Linked DNA regions of Homo sapiens. The protein of the gene in region 2 interacts with the protein of the main gene of each other region in a biochemical or structural test. Each region holds a gene or a part of one and is shown on either strand. Other genes may lie near its edges. The genes, in order: SLC8A1 and S100G.

Region 1 (3,821 bases), on a different chromosome or scaffold from region 2:
CTACTACACCATGAAGATCTGTACACCTTGGCTGCCTCTTTCATTGTCAGTGAACGAATACGTCAAGGTCTGGTTGCTGGGAGAAGCAAGCAGACCTTCATAGCCAGGATGGACTCCAATTAAAACCACTGCCAGTGTCAGTTCCTGGGCATGAAGCATTGGAGAGCTGAACAGCTGGTCCCCAAAGAACACTAAGAGCCAAGAATAAGATGAACCATCTGGGGCGAAACCCTTGCTCCAGATAATACATTATCCCTGCATCCATCCTGCAAGACTGTGAGAATGACCTTTTTTTGCAGAAGAGATGTTTAAGGCTTAGCCTATAAGTAGCAATAAAGTTTGAGAAATTTAGGTAAAGAATAATTGCTGAAGGAAAGGGAGAGTATTGGCCTATTTTTGCATGTTGACCAGATGACTTGGGCAAGGTAATATACCATGAACTTGAGGCAGGTCTGCAAAGAACAATTACGTCCTGACTTTGTGATGTGTAGTTTAATTCCAGCCATGCTGTCTCCTCAACAGTCTTCCTTCTTATTGATTTATAGTCATATGTATCAAGGAGCCAGGACTAAAAGTCTAAAACTGTATGACTGATCTAAAATTAATTAGAATTCAAGGTGGGAGTTAATAGCAAAAACTATTAAAAACCTAGCCAGGGACATAGATGAAGGAAAAAATACATGTGTTATTATCAACATATTTTGTGTCAATCGCATTGGAAATCTGATCCATATATAAAAGTTTTTATCTAATGGGCCAACCTCTGAATATTATTATATCCCCTTCAAACCCAAGGCAGTAGTTATTTCTTGGATTTTATTTTAGGATATGGCATTTGCCTGGTTTAACCATAGGCAGGTTACAGGCTTAGTGTTCAAAGTAGGGCTTGGCAGCACCTAACATATGGTATGTGATGTATTGCCCTATGTGCTGAGCAGCAAAGCGGCAATAAAAGGTAATTTGGGGAGAATCCATCGCACTTCATTTGGAAAACAGAGTTCTCTCTGTTGGAGCTAAGGTTAGTGGTTTGGATTTGCGTGTGTTCCTGCAATTTTTTTTTTTTTTACATTGCTTTTGAATTGAAAATAAAAACAGACAAAAGGCCTGATGTCTAACCCAAGTAAATAAAACCTATGAGACACAAAGTAGCCAAAAACATGTTTTACTTATGTGACAAGCTAGTCACTTTGGCTATTAACTCTTAGGAAATTCAAAGAAAGACATTTGAAAATAGGAACCTATTATTATTACAAGTAAGAATCCTTATGCAACATTCACATTAATAGGCTACTGATACATGGCTTGAGGGAGAGGAAATCACTGCATACCCAGGTGTGCCCTCCATGTCAGCCTAAAGGACTGGTTTGGGTGCTTTGAGTCCCCAGACCCAGGAGTCTTTGATTTTAAACTTCCTTTCCTTCTGGTGCGGCAGCAAAGGTGCCATCTAGAAAGCCCAGAGTTTCTGAGTACACATGGGATACCCAGGAAGTCCAGTGTGCAATGTATCAGGTGCCAGGGGAGGTAAGCAGGTGTGTTCTATGGAACAGCACCAGGTCACCTGTCCCTGTAGCATACAGAGGGAATTACCACCCCCGCAACTGCCCCACCTAACGTGGCCATCTGTTCACCACCAGCCAGTGCTACCAGCCATTTCAGCTTAGAATAACATCTCAGGTGTTTCTCAGCTGTACCTGAGCTGGAAGCTGCTTTCTCCTGCCTCAGACTTTTGTTCCTTTACTTTCCATGTTCCACTGCCTGACCTTAAAAAAAAAAAAAAAAAAAAAAAAAAAAACTTCCTTTTTTTTCTTTTTGAGGCTGCTGCCCTGTTTCTATTAACTTTTAATAATGAAGTACAAGAAACCATTAAGATTTGTCTCGCTTTGCTTTTACTCACCAGTCTCTGTGATAGTTGATTGGGCTGTGTGAATGTGTGATCATGAATGCACAAAGCAGCACAAATCCAGGAGTCTGGATTCACAAACTGCCCATACCTTCTTCAATCTTTGTTCTCCTGATACAGTAAAGAGCATTTGGTAAGAACCTGCTTCAAAGTTTCTGAGTGAAAGGAACAGGGCCACCTGAAATGAACTAAGAGGAAAGACAAACTTCAGGCTTCCTGGAAGGGGCAATGTGGTGTGGACTGAGACTGGGCTCTGAAATCAGACTTTGGTTTAAAAATTCACATTTGCTAAGACCCTATCCAAGAGGCATAATATCACAACGTCACAGTTTCTCATATCATGAAAGAGGAGTAATGACATCTAGCCCATAATGCTTGTGAGAGGGGTGAATGAGAATACACACGTTGCCTGTGTAGCATAGTGCCTAGCATGGAATAAGCAGTGTTTGTCTACTTCTTTAATTATGAAATAATAATCAGATCTGCTTTTCATCACAGGCAGAGGGCAGAATTGATGATAGGCCTTCAGAATTGACCAACTCCCTTTCAGGAAGAATGTCATACTGCAGATGCAGTAGCCTTTTAGTAGCCTAAAAAGCCTTCTTATCCATTGTAAAGCAGGAGAATCCATGGGCTGATCTATATTTACATGCTGTACATATCTTCCCCACTGGAAGTTTACGGAGGAAGGATGGTGGCAATAGCATAACAACAGAGGGGAGAGACTAGTACAGGTATCGTACAACTACATACATGCTCAGAGCATGCCCAGGACCTCAGGAGGACCAGAGCAGATAACACAACACCTTGCAGTCATTTAATGCTTGCTGTTACTGGCTTTGGAAATAAGTTCAATTTGACAGTTATTAATATCTGCTATAATCCTACTGTGCAAGGTAGCTGAAAGGACTTTATTTGATTTTTTTTTTTTTTTTGAGATGGAGTCTCACTCTGTTGCCCAGGCTGGAGTGCAGTGGCATGGTCACGGGTCATTGCAACCTCCACCTCCCGGGTTCAAGCAATTCTCATGCTTCAGCCTCCCAAGTAGCTGGGATTACAGGTGTGTACCACCACGCCTGGCTTTTTTTTTTTTTTTTTTTTTTTTTTGTATTTTTAGTATATAGACAGGGTTTCACCATGTTGGCCAAACTGGTCTCGAACTCCTAACCTCAAGTGATCCGCCCATCTCGGCCTCCCAAAGTACTGGGATTATAGGCATGAGCTACCGTGCCCAGCCAGGACTTTGATGTAAGTAGGCATAATGTGGACAAGAAATTTAGTATCTTGCAAGTTCTGTTCACATGCTTAATACAGGAAGCTATTTCAGATCCTACCTCAACTTTTAAACCGATCTAGCCTGCTCGGTTTATATTGTGTTTCCAAAACAACAAAAACAGCCTCTCCTACTACTTTGTGCCAAAAAGCATCAAAAGCATTTTATTTACATGTAGTATTTCACCTTACCAACAGCACTCTGAAGTGAGCAGTACCATCCCCATTTAACAGATTAGGAAATTGAGGCCCAGAGAAGTTAAGTAATCTTCCAGAGTCACACAGTCAGCTGCGAAGGCAGGATTTGAAGTCCCCCAGCTCAAATGTGCTCTAAACCCCTGTGTTCTACCCATCAAGAAGTTTAAGTCACTGTTGTTCAACCTTCTGTAGTGGACCAAGATTTTCCTATCATCACAAAAAGATACAGTCAGGATTATGAGTAAATAAAGGGCTTTGAAAATGATCATTGGTGCCCACAGCACAGTGAAAGGTAGAAAAGCACCATGAGAAAGCATTCGTTTTGAAGACATGAGGCAGGAGCTGTAGCCCTAACATGTTTTTTTCCTAGTTGTGATATTGCATCCACTACTTGTCATCTCTAAGCCTCGTTCCCTCACCTCATAACCATCATTCTCAGTAAACTATCGCA
Region 2 (4,293 bases):
TAGGAGTCTATCTGTGCAAAATACTACTTAGAAAACCGATTGAAATAACAGTTCAGTTTGTCAGTTTCAAATTAGACTATATTATATATATATATGTATATATAAATTGTGGTAAAAAACACATAACATTGAATTTACGCTCTTAATCATTTTTAAGCATACAGTTCAGTAGTGCTAAGTAGATTCACAATTTTGTGCAGCACATCTCTATGGAAGATATATTTTAACCCCTAAGATTCCTACAAAAACACTTAGCACTTTGCTTTAATTACAAGACCAAACTGTAAGTTACTTATTCAGCCTTTGATTTATGAATATGAAACACTGTTTTCCTGAAGCCTTTACTAGATTCTAAACCATGCATGGTGATGATATATGTAAACAGAGTATGGTGGAAAACCTTAGTAATGGAAACCTTATGGGAATATAATCAGGTACATGTTAAGTAGACTTTCAGAACTTACCATTAGTCTTCCTACCTCGTTCCAGATTATGTCTTACGTACTTTTTGTAGGAAAGACATAAAATATAGAAAAAGTTACCCGTGTTACCTTTTGAAACAACTTGTTTGAGTACATGGCCTAGGCTTTCCTGTTAGATGATTATTTTTCTTCCTTTTAGAAAAAATAAAGGGTCTTTTAAAATTTTAAATTTTTTCACTAACTTGTTTTGCTGTTTAATTAAAAAGTCCCTTTTTCTGCTAGTGACTTTAAGTGTTTTTACAAGTTCTTCTATATTTCAACTATGAGAAAATGAGAAAATATCAGATTCTGGGGTCATTGAATTCAGCTTTTTTCTTTTTTAGTATTAAAAACAGAAGTCTTTCCAATTGTCATATTGGCAGAAGGGACATTTCTGGTTAAAATCTGGAGAGCTGGTTAAAATATTTGAAGAAATGTTCTTTCCTGAAGTTAGAGCTAAATAGTGACTGAGTCATACAAAACAATTCCATAGTCACTTCTGTTGTGAAGATGGTTTTTAATTGCAAAATGACAATGACTCTCTCCTTTGAGTCCTCTGCTCGACTAGGCCTGACCTTGGGCTTCCCTCTCTGTCCTTGTATCTGACTACCCTTAATATTTGATCACCTGGCCTGCCTTCAGCTAGAATCCTATCAAGGCAATTTAGCCAGAAGCTCCTTATCCTGGATATTTCCTTGGTAATTTTCCATCCACTGGCCCCCCCCATCCTGCTCTATGGTCATAAACCCCCACTTATCCTTTCTGGAGTTGAGCCCAATCTCTCTCCCCATGGCAAGAACACGTTTCAGTGGTCCCTGTATGGGTCGCCATGGCCCTCCTGGAGTAAGTTGCCTTACCATCCTTGGCAAGTGTCCTGACTCAGCTTTTTCTTTAGCAAAAGGAAAGACAGTACTGTATATTGGAGTGAGGACGATCAGCTCTTCTCTGTACTCTGTTGCCTTGAATGCATTTTGATTTTGACAACTCTGGGGTGATTTTGATGTGAAACTTTATGGCCCAGGAAATTTAGTCCTTTCTTGAAAGTTGTTTAGAAATGCACGGTTGCCTCATTAACACAAATTTAAGTGATGAACACAAATGTAAATGCTTTTGAAATATAAATGAGTGCTGACAAGGCAATTTGTCAGTGGGTTTTCCTAACAGACTGCTAAGTAAGTGTTGGTCTTGTTGAGGGATTTTACATACACAAATGAAGCCTGTCCAAGGCCAGCTAACACTATTTTGCAGTCCTCTTTGTTTTCCTAAAGCCTGGCACAGAAGTACTGAATCCATGCTGAAGGCCTTATTGGGTTTGCTTGGTGACTTGTGGGTCTTCCAGGCATAACTTGGCATTGCTTCCATTTATTATGGCTAGTCCTGCAGAGTCCTGTGCTGAGGCTGCAGGAGGGATAGAAGGCTTGGCCCTTGTTTTCTGAGAGCTTGCCTTCTGAAATGTGGCCTGACTTAAGGGGAAGAAACCCCACCTGCATGTGTCCTCCCTCAAGCGACGGTCCCTATAAGGCTCTACCGGAGTCCTCTCCCCTCCCTCCCTCCCCTCCCACCATCAGTCCCATTAAGTGGGCTCTGCGGATGGCCACTTACTTTGAGTAAACTGGGGAATTCAGCCTGAATCAATAGCTTCAGTTCATCCTTTGACAACTGGTCTGGATCACCTTCTTTGGCTGCATATTTTTCAAAAATCCTCTTCAGTTCCTCAGGAGACTTTTTAGTACTCATTCTGGTGTCTTATAAATTGGGAAGAAAATAAACTTACCAAAAAGCTGAAGTACAGTTTTGTGCTGAGGGTTGTCTGCAGGATTTTAGTGCCATTGGGCCATTTCCTTGGCATAAATGGGGAAGAATAAGGAAAAGAGAATGTCGGGGTCGGAATGGCACCAGTAACTACTAACATGTTTAAAAAATAAGCATCTTAGGCCAGGCACGGTAGCTCATGCCTGTAATCCCAGCACTTTGGGAGGCCAAGGAGGGTGGATCACTTGAAGTCAGGAGTTCGAGACCATGGAAGCCTGGCCAACATGGTGAGACCCTGTCTCTATACAAAAATTAGCCAGGCGTGGTGGTGCGTGCCTATAGTCCCATCTACTTGGAAGACCGAGGCAGGAGAATCGCTTGAACCCGGGAGGCGGAGGTTGCAGTGAGTGCGATGCCACTGCACTCCAGCCTGGGTGACAGAGCGAGCCTCCGCTGCAAAAAAAAAAAAAAAAAAAAAAAGACATCTTAGATAGTATGTTAAATGTCTGTTCTTAGAGTACATCTGTTAGGAGATGGTCCCTGGAGCCAAACATTTTTATTAGTAATTAATGACATTCTACACTTTTTATGTACCTGATCTGCACTCTGCAGGCTGTGGTCTTGAAGAATACTTGACCACAGCTTCTAGCTTCTAAGTTACAGGGAATATCTCCAGATGGCATAAACTCACCTTCTCTCCAGACCATTATCTTTCACACCATTCTAAAAGGAAGCAGAGTATTAATGCAAACAGAAGGAGCTCTAGGTAGTACCAAAATCACACTAACCTGGTTGCCCAATAGTGAAACAGCTAGAAGAATCAAAGAGGAGTTTGAAGAGCTGAGCAGAATCATGACACTTTTATAGTCTTTACGGGCACGCCACCCTGATTATGAAAATTTCCTTTTGTTGGCCATTTAAGGGTAATTATTAATGGTTTTTGAAACTCAGGCTTAAGACTGCATGAACCCCATAATTAAGGGCAAGATCCAGTAAAGGTCCATCTCGACAGTTGCTTCATGGTTCAGAGTCGTAAGCTTGGATTTTTTTCCCCCTGAGATTATATTTTCCCTCCAATGTAGAATTATATTTGCTCACAGTTCACATTTCATAAAGCTTAGATATAGAGGATTCTTTTCAATTTAGTTGCATATTTAGGCTTTAAAAAATAACTTTCTTCATATCCAGAAAAAATAAATGCTGCCCTGTGCGGTAGCTCATGCCTGTAATCCCAGCACTTTGGGAGGCCGAGGCAGGAGGATTGCTTGAGGTGAGGAGTTTGATACCAGCCTGGTCAACACAGCAAGACATTTCTACTGAAAAATTTAAAAAATCAGCCAGGTGTGATGGTACATGCCTGTAGTCCCAGCTACTGTAGAGGCTGAGGTGGGAGGATTCCTTAAGCCTGGGAGGTTGAGGCAACAGTGAGCCATGATTGTGCCACTGCACTCCAGCCTGGGTGACAGAGTGAGATCCTGTCTGTAAAAAAGAAAAAATGCTGTCATAGAAGGACAATATTACATAGTTTAAAAAATTACGGTATGGCCATTGAAGTCCTTCTGATGTCTTTACATATTAGCAGCTTAAATATTTGAATACATGAATGAATGAATGGAAGTATTGCTTCAGAAGCAGGTTTAAGAAGTGGAAAGAAGATACTCAGTAATTTGTGGTTTTATTTGGCAAATCAATATTGAGTAACATGGTCATTTTTTCAGCTCTTTCATTATTTGTTGGTCCTGTGTCTGCTTTTTATTTCTCATTATCCTTTTCCTTACCAAATATATTTCGTGATCATTCGAAAAACTTGTGAGAACACTCGACTTACTCTTGTTCAGTTGGAAATACTTCAAACTTTTTGTAACTGCCATGATTTAAAATTGCCAAGGAGATTGATTTCTACTGGAAAGAGTTCCATGAAATAAGTAGGACATTTCCAAGGGACATTGATCTAATGCTGATTGTAACTCACAGGAAGGGGTTCCAGGTGGATTTTAAGAGCACTTTACAGCTTTGAAACACTTGTACACTTCCACACTTATAGAATTTTCCCTGACTCTGCCTTATATCACCTACAAAC

Evidence for each region.
Region 1: the proteins of S100G (region 2) and SLC8A1 interact in a biophysical measurement, tested with the Homo sapiens proteins (one large-scale study listed by IntAct).

What each region holds. Positions count from the first base shown.
Region 1 is NC_000002.12:40,116,579-40,120,399, reverse strand, and holds part of SLC8A1 (sodium/calcium exchanger 1 isoform A precursor), read left to right. Parts: intron 1-3,821. UniProt on the Homo sapiens protein: Mediates the exchange of one Ca(2+) ion against three to four Na(+) ions across the cell membrane, and thereby contributes to the regulation of cytoplasmic Ca(2+) levels and Ca(2+)-dependent cellular processes.
Region 2 is NC_000023.11:16,648,912-16,653,204, reverse strand, and holds the start of S100G (protein S100-G), read right to left. Parts: upstream 3,048-4,293; 5' UTR 3,002-3,047; intron 2,303-3,001; exon of another isoform or gene 2,207-2,302; 5' UTR 2,199-2,206; coding exon 2,064-2,198; intron 1-2,063.